2 linked regions of the Homo sapiens genome follow. Each later gene encodes a partner of the first gene's protein in a complex. Each region holds a gene or a part of one and is shown on either strand. Other genes may lie near its edges.

The links.
Region 2: the proteins of KIF18A (region 1) and KIFBP are in contact, whole or in part, in a cryo-EM structure (PDB 7RSI), measured with the Homo sapiens proteins. Residues at the interface, in NP_112494.3 of Homo sapiens: Glu181, Thr183, Gln184, Lys185, Gly186, Arg274, Phe275, Val276, Glu277, Gly278, Thr279, Asn280, Ile281, Arg283, Ser284, Leu285, Leu288, Gly289, Val291, Ile292, Arg314, Lys317, Asp318, Gly322, Asn323; in NP_056449.1 of Homo sapiens: Ser150, Glu151, Tyr212, Tyr213, Gln216, His220, Gln238, Ile251, Asn252, Thr255, Gln258, Asn262, Gly414, Tyr415, Val459, Asp460, Leu461, Asn462, Pro463, Gln464, Leu467.

What each region holds. Positions count from the first base shown.
Region 1 is NC_000011.10:28,100,151-28,113,244, forward strand, and holds the start of KIF18A (kinesin-like protein KIF18A), read right to left. Parts: upstream 8,007-13,094; 5' UTR 7,914-8,006; exon of another isoform or gene 7,339-7,913; intron 1-7,338.
Region 2 is NC_000010.11:68,984,943-68,991,802, reverse strand, and holds the start of KIFBP (KIF-binding protein), read right to left. Parts: upstream 3,001-6,860; 5' UTR 2,971-3,000; coding exon 2,545-2,970; intron 676-2,544; exon of another isoform or gene 1-675. UniProt on the Homo sapiens protein: Activator of KIF1B plus-end-directed microtubule motor activity. Required for organization of axonal microtubules, and axonal outgrowth and maintenance during peripheral and central nervous system development.

The sequences.
Region 1 (13,094 bases):
AGCAGGGCTTTTTTCAGCAGGGCGGGAAGTGGTGGGAGGCAGGGTCAGATCAGTTCAGTTTTGGATAGCTTAAGTCTCAGAGTTTTGACAGACATCCAGGTGGAAATGTCAGGGCAGGTGGAAGTTAAGAAAATAAGAAAATAAAGGCTGTCCTCAGTCTTAATGCAGTATTAAGCTTTAAAAACTTTCGGGAAATCCTAAATGAAGGAGGAAACAGCGATCTATTGTGTTAAATACTGCTAATAGGTCAAGTACTTACTGAGAATTAACCATGGGATTTACTAACACAGAGGCCATCGAGAAAAGCAATTTTGGGGCAGTAGTGGGGAAAAAACCCGAAAGGAGAAGATCCATAGACAAGGTATATGGAAAGGACTGTTTCAAAGGGAGGAGAAAAATGGTGTGAGTGAAGGGGGGGGGTGGTGTCAAGATGTTTTGTTTGTATTTTTTTTTAAATGGGAGAAATAGCAATATTCAAGCTGAAATATGTCACAAAACCACTTAGCCATATACTTTCGGACAGAATTCAAATAAGGACAGAATTCAAAGGAATCTAAAAGCAGTAGATGCTAGACATATCTTTGCCTTTTTAGGACTCTGTCTTTGGCCAAAAATAGAATACTGAAAAGGAAGGGATGGTCATTTGGATTCTAAGTCAGGTCCCAGGTGAATTACTACTTTGTTTTTCATCCCTGAGCTTCCGTCTAGCCAAGTGTCACAAAGCACCTACACCTCACTTTTATGACCTTGGACAAGTTACTTAACCCCATGAGTCTCAGGTTTCTATTTGTATAAAAGAGATAATAATACCTCAATGTTTGTTGCAAAGGCTAAAAGGGGTAAGTATTAAGGTATTCAGTAAATACCAATTCTCTTCCTATCTGCCCCACTCCTGCTTCTTCTTGCCAAAGAGACTGAGTTCATCTTTTGAGTTTTTCTCAATGGGCTTATGACTAGCACTTTGGGTAGGCCAATTCTTCCTTGCTTAGAACTGCCCTGTTATAGGGCATTTAGAACTGCCCTATTAGAGGATGTTTGGCATTTCTCTCCCCTGTCTATTAAAGGCCAGCAGTGTCCCATATTCCTTGTGATAACAAAAACTATCTCCTATACACATTTCTAAAAGCTTTTAGAAATATTCAACAATATTTTAACAGATATACTATTTTTAAATGATAGATTAAATATACATAAATGAAATTGTTAACAAAGTAAACATAAAATACTAAGTGATTATTTCAAAATAAACCTTAGAATCTCAAGGCTGGAGGATATCCCTCCCTAATTAATTAGTTAATTAATTCATGACAACTATTACATGTTGGAGCCAGGCAGCCTAGGTTAAAATCTCAGCTCTATGACGTACTGACTGTGATAGTGGATAAGTTACTTAACCTCCTTGTGGCTCAGCTTCCCCATCTGTAAAGTAAGACTAACAACAGTACCTATCTCATAAAGTTGTAAAGATTACACACTTAGAACAATACTTTGTACAGAGTATGAACTACAAGTGTTTGCTATTATTATTTACAGTGTAGTGAGGGAAACAGATATTAATAAAATATTGACACAAACATGTAAAGGTATAACTGTGACAAGTGCCATTATAGGGAAAAGGTTAACAGTGCTTTATAAGACTATAATGAGGGGATTATTTAAGTAACATTCCAGGGAGAAATTTGGACAATTACCTAAAGGAATGAGGACTAAACTCTGATTTTTTATTTTGCCCAAATTCCTATCTAAGGGGTCTGGGGAGTCACGCCCTATAAATCATGGATTTTCATTAGATGCGTTTTATTTGACCCCGTATATTGTGACTTGCTTTTCAATTGACTCTGGCATAACATTATGAGACAAAGAAAAAATATTTAACACCCAAAATAGATTTACTTGCCAAGCCTTGAAATTGCCCTGCAAAGTTTCTTGTTGGAAAAGTCCACGTTCTATAGAGAATCCCCTTCCCTCTTTGTTTTCCTCTTTTCTTTGCAGATCCAGTAGATAATCAACTAAAAGCCAGGCACCCTTTTAGCTCTGCGGAGAAACATTTTACAACCTGCTCTCTCTCTCTGAAATTTGCTGAGAGCTTCCTCTGCAAAATAAAACTTGGTCTCCACAATTATTTTTAACCTGAACATTCCTTTCTATCAATCCCAGGTCTTTAGACAAACTCAACCAATTGTCAACCAGAAAATGTTTAAATTTACCTATAGCTTGGAAGCCCCCGCTTTGAGTTGTCCCGCCTTTCTGAACCAAACCAACGTATTTCTTAAATGTATTTGATTGATGTCTCATGCCTCTCTAAAATATAAAAAACCACGCTGTACACTGACCACTTTGGGCACATGCTCTCAGGACCTCCTGAGGGCTGAGTCATGGGCCATGGTCACTCATATTTGGCTCAGAATAAATCTCTTCAAATATTTTACAGAGTTTGACTCTTTCAGTCAATAGAATTTAAGTATAATGTCAAATATAACTTTGTTTCACAACTAGTTGCATATTTTAACAAAGACATGGATGTTAATTTTTAAAGTATCATGTATTTCCCTATCTTTTAAAAACAAATATGTGGATAGAATTTTCTTAATAAAAATGCCTAAGGTCAACAGAATCATCAAATGTAAAAATTAATCTATGTTCAAATATACTTACATCTGCAGGAATTAATGAGATCGTTCCTACATTATTATGTGGTGCCTTCTTTGTTTTCTAGGATGGCTGACTAAAAGAAATGAGCATTTAGTTGATTCTGAATAAGGCACAGAGAGAGTAAATTCTTCAACCATGTTTAATATGAAGCAGCAAAAGAAAAGCCTAAATATCGTTATCTGCGCAAGAATGTGTGGATTCACAAATTCTTTTCAGACAGCTGTTCAGAAGATAGTATTATAGCCTCTGATCAATTTTGTCCTATCTACCCCTAAGTGGTATTTACTGAACAGAATCAAAAGAGCAAACTGGTAGGATTTCATTGGTGGAACTAAAACATGAAAGACAAATACTTCCAACGTGATTATTCATTATAATCAGGTTGAGCATTCCAAATTTGAAAATCTAAAATCTAAAACTTTGTGAGCACCAACATGACACTCAAAGGAAATGCTCATTAGAGTATTTTGGATTTTCAGATTAGAGATCCTCAACCAGTAAGCACAATGCAAAAATTAAAAAAAAAAAAAAATTCCAAAATTCAAAAAAACTTCTGGTACCAAGCATTTTATATAATAGATACTAAACCTGAAGAAGAATATTTGTCTAGTCTAGAGAGAGTAGGGTATCAAAAAAGAAGAATGAAGGGGCTAAGGAAAGGGGCTTTACTTGCTAATGTATAAAACAAAAGGGTTAGATTATATGATACGGAAAGTCTTTTTCTAGCTCCAAAATTTTATGATTATTATGCATGATTAGAAAAGGGTACAAGAGAATAAGAAATGACAGTTAATAGACTTTTACTTTATATCCCTATTCTCTCATAGAGAGTCTAGTATATAGTAAATTTTCAAATATACCAATGAATGAATTAATAAACTATAAAAAATGCTCACAGACCCCAAAAAGCAATTTACTCACTTAGAGTAGAAGGAAAAAGAAAATGTATATCTCCAAGAGAAACAACATATTAGAGTACAATAGTTGACAACAACAGGCAATCACAATGAGAACCCTGAGGCATCAAAAAGAAAAAAATAAGAAAGAAATAATGTTCCCAATTTCTTGTTTAGAAAATTAAAGAAATGGCAAGATCATGTTTTATTTTCATCATTAAGTGTGGTTAAAATACTTTATTACTTAGCAAAGCTAATATTCAATTTTCTGGAAGATTCATTTATGTAGAACAGCTCATGCCTCTGCAATGTTTAATGAGGTATTAAAATCTATTTATCCTGAATACTTGCATGGTAATAAGCCAAGTTGAACAGGTCAATTTTTAACTTATAACATATGTAGCTAGTGCTCATCCCAGATTAAAGATTCACCCCTAATTATATGCAAGTACAATAAATTTTATTTAATTCATTGATTGTATGCACTGATACTTTCTTCAAAAGCATTCAGATCATGATATGTATTGCATGTCATTTACCTGCTCCAAACTATCCAATGACTTCTCATCATAAGAATAAAATACAAACTCCTTACCATGGCCTATAAATTCCACATATGGCCCTGCCTACCTCTCTGACAATGACTTCTACTGCTGTCTCCCCATTTCATTATTCTGCTTCAGCTGCAATGACTTTCTTAGCATTCCTAAAACACTTCAGTCTTGTTTTGGCCTCCTGGCTTTTTTATTTTTGCTTACTGGCAGGCATTACCTCCAGATATTTGCAAATTGTAATCCCTCACTTCATTATTCAGGTCTCTTCAAATGCCACTTTACAGAGGCTTTCCCTAAAGAATCTATCTAAGATAGTGTCACCCTGCCTTTGCTTCTCCAATCCCTTACTAGGTTTATTTTTCTTTCTTGAGTTTAGCACTAATTGGAAAGTATATGTTATCTGGTTACATATTTATTGCTTGTTTTCCCTCTAGAATGTAAGCACTGTGAGAGCACGGAGTTCATCTGCACACCAGCACCTAGGACACTGCTTGTCAAATATTTAGGACCCAATAAATACTTGTTGAATAAATGAATGAATAAACCAGTACAGTTTTAATAGACTTATAGCATGTTACCATTTGTATTTTTAAAAGATATATATGTATATGCATGGTCATTCCCAGAAGGGTACACAAGAAATTGATAATACCACTTTCCCTATAGAAGGGAAATATGAAGGTCTGAGTGAGAGACAGGTTTATTTTCCATTTCATATTCTTTTGTAATATTTAAATTTTAAACAAGGTCTAGGTATTTTTATTTCAAAACAGACAAACAACAACAACAAAACCACTATTAAAATTTACCTTAATCGCAACATTTAATTTAGTAACAATAAGTTATATTTTCTATTGAGCTCATATCCCACAAATAGAAATGTACTAACAATTGACATACTCTTACTAAATCGTCATAACAACCTATGACATAAACCCTGTACTGTCATTCCTATTTTATTAAGGCAGAAAGTGTAATACAGAGAAATTAACTGGCTAAAGTCACACAACTGAGGAAGCACATGCCATGGGATTTGAACTCAGACTGACTGAATCTAAAGGCCAAATACTTAATCACTACTCTCCCTGATGTAAATATATAACCCTCAGAAATTTTCTTATAGAAGTTAAAAATATATATATTGCTTACTTTTTTAGAAATTTTAAAACATTTAATTGGCAAAGATTGTATAAAACGAAGATGTACAATGTGATGGTCTCATATTCTTATACACAATGGAATGATTACCACAATTAAATTAATACGTCTATCACCATTGATGCTGTACATTAAATGCCATGAACTTATTTATCTTATAACTTAAAGTGTACCCTTTGACCAAAATCTCCCTATTTCCCCCAAAACTCAGCTTCTGGTACCACTCTCTTATATTTCCTTACTTTTGATAGAAACCTCAGGGCCTGGCACAGGAGCTCTTGAATGTGAAAATAAAACTGATTATGATTTCTCTGTACTTGTCAGATATCACAGAGTGGCCATTCTCAATAAGTATGCTTTAACAATGCTTAGATTAGGTTGATATGGTGATAATTATTAATAATGAACAACAATGCTTTTCATTTGAGTATGTACACTCTGTCTCATGCATTATAGTAAACACTTGACATTCGTCATTGCATTCAATCCTTATAATAATCACGTAAGGTAGGTTGTAGTAGTATTTCCATTTTACAAAAACAAAGACTTAGCCTTAGGATAAGTAACTTTTCCAAGATGACGTAACAAGTGGGCAACCAAATGTCAAATATAAGTCAATTCAGTCAAAGATTCACCCCTAATTTTATGAAAGTACTATAATAAATTTAATTCATTGATTGTATTCACTGATACGTTCATCAAAAGCATTCAGATCATGTGATGCATCACATGGCATTCACCTGCTCTAAAGTCTCCAATGACTTCTCACCAGAAGAATAAAACACAAACTCCTTAACGGGTACAAATCTAAAGTCCATGTTATTAACAGCTAGGTTCTACTGGAATCAGAAGAGAATGCTTCCAAACAATGATACAGAAGTAGAGTGACAGTTATGATATATTAAATACAAACTCAAACCTGAATTAGATTCAGATTCAACAAACACTGTATAGGACTGAAAACGATACTCAACACTATCATCTACAGTCCATCTTAAAGCTCTTTTTGGAATATCAGTCTTGGGGGCACTACTCCCACCAACTTACAACCATCAGGGAAGAATAAAAGGTTCAACTGGAGGGAAGGCCGGCACTGACAGCTGAGCTATTTTTTTTCCTCTTAGTTTTCACAGTTGTCAGCAAAAAAAAAAAAAAAAAAAAAATCATTTTTATCGTGTCTCTTAATTGATTTGGGGTATTTCTATGATGGGACAAGATGCACTTTCAATATAAAAATATTATGTATTTGTAAATACTTTTCAATAGTAGAAGAGGAAGGGCTGGGTGCCCTGCCTCACACCTGTAATTCCTGCACTTTAGGAGGCCGAGGCGGGCAGATGGCTTGAGGTCAGGAGTTCGAGACCAGCCTGGCCAACACAGTGAATCCCCGTCTCTACCAAAGATACAAAAATTAGCCGAGTGTGGTGGCAAACGCCTGTAATCCCAGCTACTCGGGAGGCTGAGGCACGAGAATTGCTTGAACCTGGGAGGTGGAGGTTGCAGTGAGCAGCGATCACGTCACTGCACTCCAGCTTGGACCACAGAGCGAGACTCTGTCTCAAATAAATGAATAAATAATAGAAAAGGAGATTAATTACTACTATTAAAGGCAGATAATCTTTTAAGTTTTTTTCTTTGTGATTGTGCTTTGTAGATAATCTTTGTTTATTGAAATAGTTCTTACAAACTATGAACTTAATAAGAAGCACTATCTAGTCATTGGATATCACATTCTCTAGCATCAAAGTTTATAAAAACCTTACAAAAACGAAACAGGAGGCTAGACGTGGTGGAATGACACTAAAAATTAAAATCTGTAGAGTGCCTAAATTTCTACCTAATTATCCATAATCTAAACTATATATTATACCACAAAATCAGTTCATTCTGGTCAAATACTCTCTTCTCATATAATAAACAGCAGTCAGTCTTGGCTTCTCTGTAACTGAGTGACTAATGAGCTCCTAAAAAAAAAAAAAAGTCCTGCGGAAACCAAGAACAGACTATAGGACTGATTCTAAATGTTTACAGTTTAATTTCATCTGCAGAGCATTTGCCAAACAGTATCTCTTCCGTACCTCATCTGATCCTCGGCAATCCCGTTAGGCAGTCAGAGCGGCTTTTATCTCGATGCTACCTACAACTGGGGCTCAGGAGGGGTTCCCGATTGACCAGTGCAAGACTAACAGTTAAAGCTCTTCAGACAAAAATTTTATGCAGTGATGAACAAAAGCTCCTCGTTTGATAGGTAAGCCCCTGGGTACGCTTATATGTGAGTCTGAAACAAAACACTCCCAATTTGGAGTCCGGAAAAAAGCTGACACTACAAGGTGCTGGGCAGTTAAAGTTCTCTGCCAGTCTGGGAAAGGGGCCAAGATGCCCTTTAAAACTTAAGACTTCCTCTCAGGACTTAAGGAGATCCCTGCCCTTCCAGCTGAGCAGTCGAGGATTACGGTCAAGCAGAGCTGTGCTCTTAGCAGGTTCTCGAATCCCTTTTTCCTTTCACTTTCTCCCCAGGTACCCTGATCCCCCACCCCTCAACGCTTCTGTGTTTGTCAAGAAGCCCACCTGGTCTTCTAGACCTGAAGCGGCAGGACCCTCCGTTCCCAATAATACAAGTCACCAAAAGGAGCGTCCCAGAGTCCAGTTTTACCTTCATGTGCCTCTCACTCACTTCAGGCCCAGGCCAGGTTACCGCAACCACTTCACTTTAATGTCCGCCTCCCAGCGCTTCAGACTCAACCACAATATTCAAACCCAAGCCACTTTCCTCAGCGCTTCGTTTCATTGGCTGCCGCTCGCGTGATGTCATCACGTCGGACGCTGTCACGGCTCGCGGCAGCTTGGCGCCAAGAAGCTCAGCCTGGCTGCGCAGGGGAAGCTCTTTGCTTGCTCGTCACCGTGGCAACGCGCGCGGCCGTTTCCGGAGGCGGTGGCCAAAGTGGGCGGGGCTAGGCCGGAGCTGCTGGTGGGAGGCAGCCACTTGAGATCACCAGGCCTCCTGTAGACCGGCGGGTGCAGGGCCCGGTCCCAGAGTTAAGGGTGTGAGTGAGACTGCTGCGGGCAGGGGTTGGCCTATGCCCTCTGCTAGGGGGAGAGGTGGAGTTTGGGTGTGGATTAATGGGTTCTGGGTGTTTATTTTCTTTTCTCTGAGTAGTGAGGCCTCCAAGAAGTTGTAGGGACCTGTTTCTTCCAGACACATTAATATGGGCCAAAATGTGGGGTCTCTTCACCTGAATTAATTGGAGATCTTTTGGGTTGAGGCCTCAGGCTTCATTTCTCAGGACTTCCAGGCCTACTCCCATTAGTACTGACCGTGAAACTATTTTCTGTTTGGTTACTTTTTACATTCTCTGTCTAATGATGGCATAACAAAATAAATTTAAAGATTTTGGCTTGGTTTATTATTAGGTGAAGTGATTTTTTTTAAGTCCCAGGTTATAGATATTATTTCAGCATAGACACTTTAAAAAGAGAGAAAATACCTGGAACAAATCGGAAATACGTTTGCTAAAATAACTTTATTTGGCAGGGTGTTTTTAATAACAGTATCTGAATTTCATTGTTCTATATATTACTGTTATTGTATCCATTTAGCAATTATTTAGATTTTAGACACAATAGTATGCAATGGAATCAAACTCTTCCCTCTTGGAGCTTATATTTTGTGGATTCAATATCACTTTATAAATAGGATGACTCATACCCATGCAGAGTATTATAAATGCAACAATATATGGAAACCTCTGTATTATGGACATTTATTTCCTGTTGAGGAAAATCGGGAGTATTGTGTACTGTATGTGATGCATGTTATATTATTGTTTCTGATCACTAGACAGAGGATCAATAAAGCTACTACTTATTTTTGGCTGTATTACGTGTATCTTAGCTAATGAAATGGTTATTTGTGTGCTGCTGGTCTTGGTAATAAAATCGAGATGTCTTTATTTCCAGTAAGAACTCATTGTATAGTACTTTACGTTTTGACTTCCCAGGTATTTTATTAGTCCCTTTACATATGGTCTCTCAGTTAATTCTCAAAACAGCCCATGAGACGTAGGTAATATTATTTTCATTTTTCTGAGAGAAAACTGAAGTTTTCAGAAAATTCCTAACACAAAATTTTGTCTTGAACTATACAGGCAAGGCAATTCAGAATTGAGTCATTTGTCTCTGAAATACTTTCTGGATTAAGTGACATTAAGAGAATATCTTAATCCAGTCTGAAAATATGCATATTTTGCCAGTTGCTTGTAAAATTGCATGGATCATTGGTGAAGAATAGAAGTGTTTTAAAGTTTGTCTTTTTTGACACCCACATTGTATAAGGTTTATCAGTGCCACAGATGTTTTCACACCTAATCCAAGTACTTTAGATTTCAAATTCAGTGTTACACTTGCCATTTAACAGTGTTCAGATGATGAGGTCCATATTTTAAAGGAATTGTACATTTGGTTAAAGCAGAGAGATTTTGACATTACAATCAATCCCACTACTGTGCCACCTTGCTCCTTGTAGTTTCTAAACATAGAGCTAATGAGACAGAAATTCCCACTTTTAGTTAAAAATTGGAGTATAACTGCTGTGTTATCAGAATACAAGTTTAATATACTTTCATTGTAAACCAAAGAGCAGAGATAAGGATAAATGAAAAGTTAGATTTAAAGTTGTTTCAGACCAAAAAATAAAAATGGAAAAAGTAAAAGTGAATTTAAACATGGCAATAGTGAGGTCTTATTTATTTCCCCCAGGAAAGTCGTTTGGAAACCCCAGGCCAACAGGACCCTTTGGCAGCTGAGGCTGGAAACAGCGGAACCAAAGGCAGACGGTCCTCAGTTGCTTGGGCGGACGTGGACCCAATCTGTCCGTCCTTACAAGTTTCCCCCAGGGGCAGGACCTAGACGCGCGGCGCATTCAGGTTCTCCTGGACCGTAGTGGTAGTCGCTGGCCCGAGTTAGAGGCCAGCTGAGAAGTCTTCGTGCTTCAGGTGAGGAGAAGGGGACCGAGTCCCGGGAACTCGTTTTGGAAACCACCAAACCTTTGGGGGTACTCCACAGGGGTCGCTGGATTCGTCCGGAGCAAAAGAAAAATACGCCCCTGACCCTCTCCCTCTCTTCAACACGCCTTCAACCTGGGTTTGGAAGTTTCCGAATAGTTTTTCCTCGTCAGAGCGTAATTCTTAGGCAAAAGGGTGTATTTTTCTCTTTCCTTAGAACCTCTTTCACTTTCTCAGCGTTCGTGTGCCAGCCGCCACGTCGCGTTTTTGTCCTTAAAAATTACATTTTCAAACAGGATTTCCCTGCCAGACAAAATTGACTGCAATGATTATAATTGTTAGAGCCCTTGAGGGAGTATCCTTCATGGGCATCACTCACCTGTGTGTTTTCACAATTAAAAGAGTAATCTGGCAATTTTATGCTCTCAACAGCCAAAAGTGAACTTTGCTTGTAGAGAAAAGTTAAATGACTTAACTAGGAGATCACAGAGGCAGTTTTCCTGACTCCCTGCTTCCTTATGACCAGAGGGAACTTAATCTTAAATCATTTAGGGTAGCTGGCCACTAGCAGACTGCAGGAGAGCTCCAAGTTGTCTGGTAGGAAACTGGGCTCCAAAAGAGAAGAATATAATTTTCTTTAGAGCATGCCACACCCCCAGCTTCCATTTTTTTAGGGAGGTATTGCAGGAAACAAGAGGCAAATGAACTATTTGTCACCCTTTCTCCAGGTTGACTCAAGTTGGCAGGCAATTAGTTCATAATAAAATATTCAGGCTTTGTGCCTTGACCATAGTTGAATAAACACATAGAGACTGAATGCAATAGAAAAAAATTAAATGCAAGTGATAGCGTTTTTTGTTTGTTTTTCCCCCGCTACTCTGCGTTTTCCTGTATAGTTCTTATTCCTATGTTAGAATTGATGATACTACTTTTCTTTTTAGTTATCAAAATCTGGACATATAGGGTAGGTTGTTCCAGAGTTCACTTTTTAGGCGTATACATTGTACGTTCATTACTGGGAACCCCGCAGCATACTGTTATTTTTAAGTGGAACAGAGCCAAGCCATTGGATGTCGGTTCCTTAATAAAATGAATCTATGAGATATTACAGATATATAGTCAATTTAATTGAAGTACTATTAAATTACATAAGTGGATTAAATAGTTCCAGTGGGCAATGTTTATAGCATGGAGATTGAGTTCAGGCTCTGGGGGTAGACTGTGTTACAATTTTAGCTTTACGGCTCTCTAGCTATGTGGCCTTTGGCAAATTACTTCTCTGTTTTCCCTGTCTATAAAATGGGAATAATATTTCAAGAGTCGTGGTAAGGATTGAATGAGGTAGCGCATGTAGTGTGGTTATAATAGTAAGTGGTGCTTAGTAAGTGCTAAATAAATGTTAGCTATTATTTTGTAAACTGTTAGAAACACTAAGTCAGAGGGTAGTTGAGCTTACTTTTGTACGCTTTCCAGAAACCTTAGGCATAATTAATAATTTGGCTATTTCATTGCTGCCAAGCAACCAAAAATCTACTTAGATCACTCATTCCCCCCCCCACCGACATTTTTTCAATGTCACATTTGCCACACAATTCTGCAGATTATAGCTTTGGTGAAGTTAACATATTATCCTCAAGGTAACATCTTGTTGATGTTACATCATATTTGTATTTCTTTGTGTTTTATTACGTGTGATCAGCTTTTCAACGTTTTTAATTTTTTTTATTGCAAAAGGAAAGACAGACATATTTAAGTGGGATTTATGCTTCTTGTAGTATTTTGAGAACATATGGTTTTTGGTGGGGTCAGTCATGCAGGGGAAATTTCCCAAAGTGAGGATTGATAACAATGCTAATTCTGTGGAGTCTGGAATTAATCCATTCATTCATTTTCTTCAGAAAACATTTATTAAGCACTGATGTGCATCTTATTTTGTGTATACGAAGGTGTGGGTCATATTCTTAAATAACTAATAACCTGTAAGGAAAGAATAGTGTTAACTGGGTAGTATCAAGCGGTGTTTACTGTGGTAGTATCAAAAACTTTGCTTGAAACCAGCTGGGTATAAAATGCATGGTGTTTTCAAAAGGTCTCCTGTTAATATATGTACATAAATCCTTTTTTTCTTCTGCATTTTAAAGAGTTATGGATTGCTGAAGAAAATGGAGCACCTATGGTAAATCCAAGGAATATATCAATTATTTGTTTTTTGGGTGCCGGGGACAGATAATTAAAGGTAGACATGAAATACCGAAGTGTGCTCAGTTGAGTGTTTATACAGTCATAGTTTAAACTGATATACACTCCACTGATACAGGGTACAGGGAGATGATCTCGTCAGAGAATCGGACTGATAGACTGATTATCTTTTTTATTTTTTGGATGTGCATGCGTAGTCTTTTCCCAGGGATAGTCTCTGAAGATGAGAATTTAGCATTGTGAGAAAAACAAATACAAGAGCTTGAAATAGAAGACCATCTGAATCTAAAATGTAATACTTTTAATCCGTTCAGTCATCCTGATTACTTTTCAAATAAACAGTTTTAATTCATTGAATCTACTTTTTAGCCTTAATTAAAATTCAAAAAAGTATGTTTCATAAAAATGTTGACCTAATAATCAATTTTCATATCCCTAATGGTTAAAATGTTAATGATATTAGAATGTATTAGGCTACATTAAAAATTGTATTTAAATTATGTTTAAATTACGTCTCTGGGTCCTCTTAGGTTCCTTGCTTTGTATATATAAGAAGGGTTTGTCACCTTTACTTGTTTAAGATGTTAGGATCATGAGTCTTAACTTTTTTTTGATGTGCTAAATATTGCATATTA
Region 2 (6,860 bases), on another chromosome or scaffold:
AAATCAACTCATTCTCTGTCAAAGAGTTCTTCCAAAATGCCAAGTCTACAAGAAGGGATGTGTGGCAAACCATCTGCATGGGGCTCTCCCACACCAGCCCACTCTCAGGCCCACAGCCTTTACCCTTTTGCTCAGGTGCACTTCAGAAGTGCAGGGATATTGAATGCCTGCTCAAGGTAGACCAAGGAGCCTTGATGGATGTCAGCTAGCTTTTTGTACTGCACGTGATGACCTCCAGCACTTGCTGCCAATGCCTTAGCTTTGTCAAGTGCTTCTGGACCAGTGCATGTCTCCAATGTTATTCATTTCTTAGTTCGGAGACATCGACATCCTCATTGATAACTTGCTCTGGTTTCTGGACAGATAATTGCAATCTTTTTTGTAGGAAAGAAATATTCTGTCTTGCAATATCCAGAAACTTGTGTATACACCGATCAACACCAGTTCCAATTTCTTCCTGATTGCTGCCATTGACATAGTCCTGACTTAACGGAGAGGCAAAGCAAGTCTGGAAAGATGACTCCATGTCATCCACCAAAGTACTGTTAGAAGGTCTCAGAGGCCCTGGAGCTGCTGGTAAGTAAAGGAAGCCTGGCCCCAGAGCCCCGGTGGTGGTTGGGGCCCCGATGGCTGCCCAAAGAACATACTGCCTAGCAAAGCAGCCATGCCTGGAATAATTTTTTTTTCTTATTTTTAGTAGCGATGAGGTGTCACTATGTGCCCAGGTTGGTCTTGAACTCCTAAGCTCGAGTGATCATCTCATCCCAGCCTCCCAAAGTGCTAGGATTACAAGTGTGAGCCACCACATCCGGCCTTTTCTACATAATTCTAAATATGGCTTATAGTCTTCTTCCTCCCTCTTCATATTGCCAATTTTTGTTAATATAAATTATTATTTTTAATAATTGTGTACTGTTCTTCTGTTTGGATGTAACGGAATTTAATCATATTCCTACTGACATTTATATTGTTTTCCTTTTCTTTGCTTTTTGAGACAGGGTCTCACTCTGTTGCACAGGCTGGAGTGCAGTGATACAATCTTGGCTCACTGCAGCCTTGACCTCCTGGGCTCAAGCGATCCTCCTGCCTCAGCCCTGCGATTTTCCTTCTTTAATAATCAACACTGCTGTGATAAACATCCATGTTCACCTGTCCCAATATTATTTTAACTTTTTAAAGTATTTTTCTTTTTTTCACCCCTTCTTTTCACAGGTGTTGACCAATATTACTTTAGAATATTGATGTGGATTTTGTTGTTGTTGAGAAAAGGTCTTGCTCTGTCACCCAGACTGCAGTTGCAGTGGCATGATCATGGCTCCTCCAGGGGCTCAAGTGATCCTCCCAGCTCAACCTAGCCTCCCCAGTAGCTAAGACTACAGGCGTGTACCACCATGCCTGGCTAGTTTTGTGGGTTTTTTGTTTTGTTTTGTTTTGTTTAAGAGACAGAGTCTCACTTTGTTGCCCAGGCTGGTCTTGAACTACTGACCTCACGCCATCCTCCCACTTCGGCCTCCCAAAATGCTGGGATTACAGATGGGAGCCACTGTGCCCTGCCCAGATTTATTTAAGAAACCAAGTACCATATAAATGGGAAACAAAAAGTATTATAAGAATTCAAAGGTAGGAGGGAGAGATCAGTTTGGCCCAAAATGGTCCCAAGAAAGTTATTAATACTAAAGGAAGTGATTCTTGAGATAGGTTTTCAAGAATGGGGAAGAATTCCCTAAGATGCAAACAAATGAATTTGGTAAGAAAGGAAGCTGCAGATTTTGGACATTTTATTTTGAATTAAGAATGTATTCCGAGCCAGGCACAGCGGCTCAGGCCTGTAATCCCAGCACTTTGAGAAGGTGAGCCAGAAGGATCACTTGAGTCCAGGAGTTCAAGACCAGCCTGGGCAATATAGTGAGACCCCCATCTCTACAGAAAATTAAAAAAATTACCAAGAATGGTGGCATGCGCCTGTGGTTCCAGCTACTATGAAGGCTGAGGCAGGAGGACTGCTTGAGCCCAAGAGGTGGAAGCTGCAATGAGCTATGATGGTGCCACTTAACTCGAACCTGGGCGACACAGTGAGACCCCATCTCTAAGAAAAAAACAAAAACAAGACAAAACCAAAAAAGAATGTACTCCGGTCATTGTCATTTCCTTGAGACGTTAAGATTTAAATTACTTTGGATTTTCTTAACAGAATGAACAGGAGTTGGACTGGTGGAGAGGAAAGCGCATGACGATGTAGGAGGGTCTCGGACACCAATGCATCGCCACGTCTAAGTGAAGCAGCAGCAAGCGATATTGGTGTGGGCGACGAGGGTGGACACGGAGTCTGGGGACGGCCGACTGTGGGAGATCTAGTTACAAGGCAATAAGTCCATAAGACTGGCTTTTTTGAAGACCACAGACGCTCTTTGGGACTCAGTCCAGAGCTACAAAAACGTGGGGACGAATTGCGCCTTACAACGTCTGCCCTTGGCCTTGGCAGGGGCTCCTCCCCATCCCTCGCCATTTGCCAACAGGGGCCGGCCTGGCCGGGCTCGCTCTCACCTGCGCCTGGATGCAGAGAGAGATGCAGTCGTGCGAGAGCCGGTACCTGCGCAGCAGCCGCAGGCATTTCACCAGGTGCTCCTCCCCCGCCGACAGCTCCTCCGTGTCGATGTGGTTCACCCCGAGGTGGAACTCGATGACTGCCAGCCTCACCGCTCGCTGGGCGACGGGCCCCTCGGGCTCCACCACCTCAGCCGGCAGCCCCAGGGCGTGGTCACCGGCACCCGGGCCGTCCTCGGCCTCAGGCCGCTCATCCTCGTCCTCAGGCGCAGGGCCGAGCAGCGCCTTGACCTCTTCCAGTAGCGCCCGGGCGCTGTATTTGGACTTGTATGGTTCCTTCTCCGGATTTTTATGCAGTTCCACCCGCGACAGAGCGAGCGCCGCCTGGAATTTCTCGCAGACCTCTGCCCACGGAACGTTCGCCATAGCGGCCTCTACTGCCTGGCTTTCCTCAATGTTTGCAGTCGGGACTCCCGCCTTCCTTCTGCTTTGCGACACTTTACTTACGGCTCTCGACACGTTGCGGCCGCTGTGGAATGGGAACCAATATAACCCTCCCGGAGAACCGCAATACGCTCGGCAATGACCAATGGGAAGACGCAGCAATCACCACAGCAACCATTCTCATGGAAATGAAGTTGTCAATGAGCGTGTTCCCACCTCCTTCCCCGCCCCCTGCAGCGGTGAGTTTATCTCCAGATTGACCCTGTGAGGATGGATTTATATAAATGTTTAATATCGGCTTACTTTAACGAAGCATATCGGAATATTGTTTACAAACATAGCTAGCTAACTCTACTCGCGTTGATATGAACTGAAAGGCAAAAACCTTTAGACATTAAGTGTATAGCCCAGCCTGTCACTGGATAAAACTTTTTTTAAAAAAGGCCAGGCGCAGTGGCTCATATCTGCAATCCTAACATTTTGGGATGCCAGTAACATTTTGGGATGCCCACTGGAGTGGGCAACATAGCAAGACCCATCTCTACATAATTTTTTTTAAAAAATTAGCCGGGCGTGGTGGCGCGCGACTGTAGTCCCAGCTACCATGGAGGCTGAGGCGGAAGGATGGCTTGAGCCCAAGAGGTGGAGGTTACAGTGAGCGAGACTGCCTCAGAAAAAAAGAAAACACGAGCATTAGAACAAATACCTAATGTATGCGGGGCATAAAACTTAGCTGACAGGTTGATAGGTGCAGCAAACCACCATGGCACATGTATACCTATGTAACAAACCTGCATGTTCTGCACATGTATCCCAGAACTTAAAAGTAAAATAAAAGAAAAAAAATTGAAATGTAGCCAAGAGCTGATTATTATCATTGACACATAATCTCTTGATCGAGAGCCATAAATATACAAAACACTCAGTGATAGACAAATATTTTCACTTCGACCCTGAAATACAGGTTGTAGGAATCTGTACAACTGCCCAAGGTAACAAGAGCTAAGTCCCACAGCTGTGAAAGCCGCCTCATGCCTTTTACCTTCCTAAGTTATCAAGTCAAATGGGGAGGGGTGATAGAAGATTTTAACTATTAAGCACCAGCTGTGTACAGTGCTTTGAGACATACAAAGGAGCATTGATTTTGGGAGCTCATAGACATATGGTTTGAACCTCAGACCAACCAGCTTTCTTATTGACAAGTTAACTTTTTTAAGCTTCAGGTTTCCCACAGTAAAATCTGAATGATACTACTTACCTCGACAGAATTATTCTGAAGAATAAATAAAATTAAACGTCTATCCTTTAAGTGTTAATGCTCCTAAAAAGTCCTTCCTAAACCTTATCCCTGGGAGATCTCATCCATTTCCAGGTCTATCATTAAACACGCTGCTCACTCCCACTTTGTCTCCAGGCCAGATGGCTCTCCAGAGCTCCAGACTGGAATATCCAACATCCAGCTACAACAATCACACCTGAATGTTTCAATAGCTGCTGTGTGTCAGTATGTTCAAGTCTAAATGATCTTCCTCTTCACATGCCCCTTCCTTCCCATACCAAATTTGCCACATTTGCAGTTCTACATGTCAGTGAATGGCACCACCATCCACCAGGCTGATTTCCTGCACTTTTTTTTTTTTTTTTGGTAGAGATGGAGTCTTGCCATGTTGCCCAGGCTTATCAAGCAATCCTCCCACCTCAGCCCCCTAAAGTGCTGGGATTACCAAGCCCAGCCTGTTCTGTCATTCTTTTTTTTTTTTTTTTTTTTTTTTGAGACGGAGTCTTGCTTTGTTGCCCAGGCTGGAGTGCACTGGCGTGGTCTCAGCTCACTGCAACCTCAACCTCCTGAGTAGTTGGGATTACAGGTGTGCACCACCACACCTAGCTAATTTTTGTATTTTTGGTAGAGACGGGGTTGGGGGGGCGGTTCACCATGTTGGCCATACTGGTCTCGAACTCCTGACCTGAAGTAATGTGCCCGCCTTGGCCTCCCAAAGTACTGTGATTACAGGCGTGAGCCACTGCACCAGGCCTCTTCTGTCATTAAACCTAAAACCAGATAGTACTGCTTAGTCCACCTCCTAAAGAGCTCTGTGTACATCTTTTTATCTCCATTAGTTTAGGCCACCATCATCTGATTACTTCTAACAGGCAGTCCTGCTGCCAGTTTGGCCTCCTATCAGTGCATCTCCCAGTACATTTAAAATGATTTGGGCCAGGCGCAATGGCTCACACCTGTAATCCTAGCACTTTGGGAGGCCAAGGTCGCGGGATCGATTGAGCCCAGGAGTTCAAGACCAGCCCGGGCAACATGGCAAAACCCCGTATCTACAAAAAAATAAATAAATAAATACAAAAATTTGACAGGCATGGTGGTGGATGCCTGTAGTCCCAGCTACTCAGGAGGCTGACATGGGAGATCACCTGAACCTGGCAGTTGGAGGCTGCGGTGAGCTGTGATCAAGCCGCTGCACACCAGCCTGGGTAGCAGAGTGAGACCCTGTCTCAAAAAAAAAAAAAAAAAAAAAAAATTTGTTCACCTGTTCAATATTTAGTTATCTATTATTTGCCAGCACTGTTGTAGGTGCTGGGAATTCAGCAGTAAAAAATGGATAAAAATTCACCAGCCTGGACAATATAGTGAGATCCCTGGCTCTACAAAAAACATCTTTTTTTTTGAGACAGAGTCTTGCTCTGTCACCCAGGCTGGAGTGCAGTGGCATGATCTCAGCTCACTGCAAATTCTGCCTCCCGGGTTCACGCCATTCACCTGCCTCAGCCTCCCAAGTAGCTGGGACTACAGGCGCCCGCCACCATGCCCAGCTAATTTTTCTACAAAAAACATTTTTAAAGAAATATTGGCCAGGTGTGGCGGCACATGCCTATAGTCTTAGCTAAGTGGGAGACTGAAGTAAGAGGGTCATTAGAGCCCAGGAGTTCAAGGCTGCAGTGAGCTATGATCATGCCACTGAACTCCATCCTGGGTAACAGATAGAGACCCTGTCTCAAAGAAAGACAAAAATCCATGCCCCGGTATAGGGAAAACACTAAATATATTAAATACATAAACCTCAATGCAATGACTGGAGATCCATCTCATGACAGATAATTAGAAGAGGGCGGGCATGGTGGCTCACACCTATAATCCCAGCACTTTGGGAGGCCAAGGCAGGACGATTGCTTGAGGCCAGGGGTTCACAAACAGCTTGATCAACAGAATGAGACTCCATCTCTATAAAAAATTTAAATATTAGCCAGGTTTGGTGGTACCCCCCTGTAGTCTCAGCTACTTGGGAGGCTGAGAGGGAAGATCACTTGAGCCTAGGAGTTCAAAGCTGTAGTTCTACCTTTAGAAAACGTATCCTAAGGTGACAGACGAGTATGCAAACACATATGTGAGGATATTAACTTTAGGGTTGTTTATAATGGTGAAAAATTAGAAATAACCAACATGGACATCGAGTACTGGTTAAATGTGTAGTGGCATATCCATACAAGAAAACATGTCATCAAAAATGTCCATGTAAGCCTGTACAAAATTGTGCACAACATGTTGAGGGGGGAAAAGCAATACACAAAATCAAATAATTCCAATTTTATAAATGAACATGTGGAAGACTGCTCACTAAAATATTAGATAAGGGTGACTGGTTTTTTTTCTCTTTAGATTTTTATATCTAGCTTTTATTATTTTTATAATAAATATTTCAAGCTATTTTCATTTTAGAAAACAAAAGCCACTAAAATCAAGTATTACTATCTTTATTATGGTATACAGCAGTATTTTATACATTAGCTCATTTTATAGTAAAAACATTTATGCACAACTGTAGAGAAACTGCTGCACAGATAGCTCCAACTTAAATTAGAAA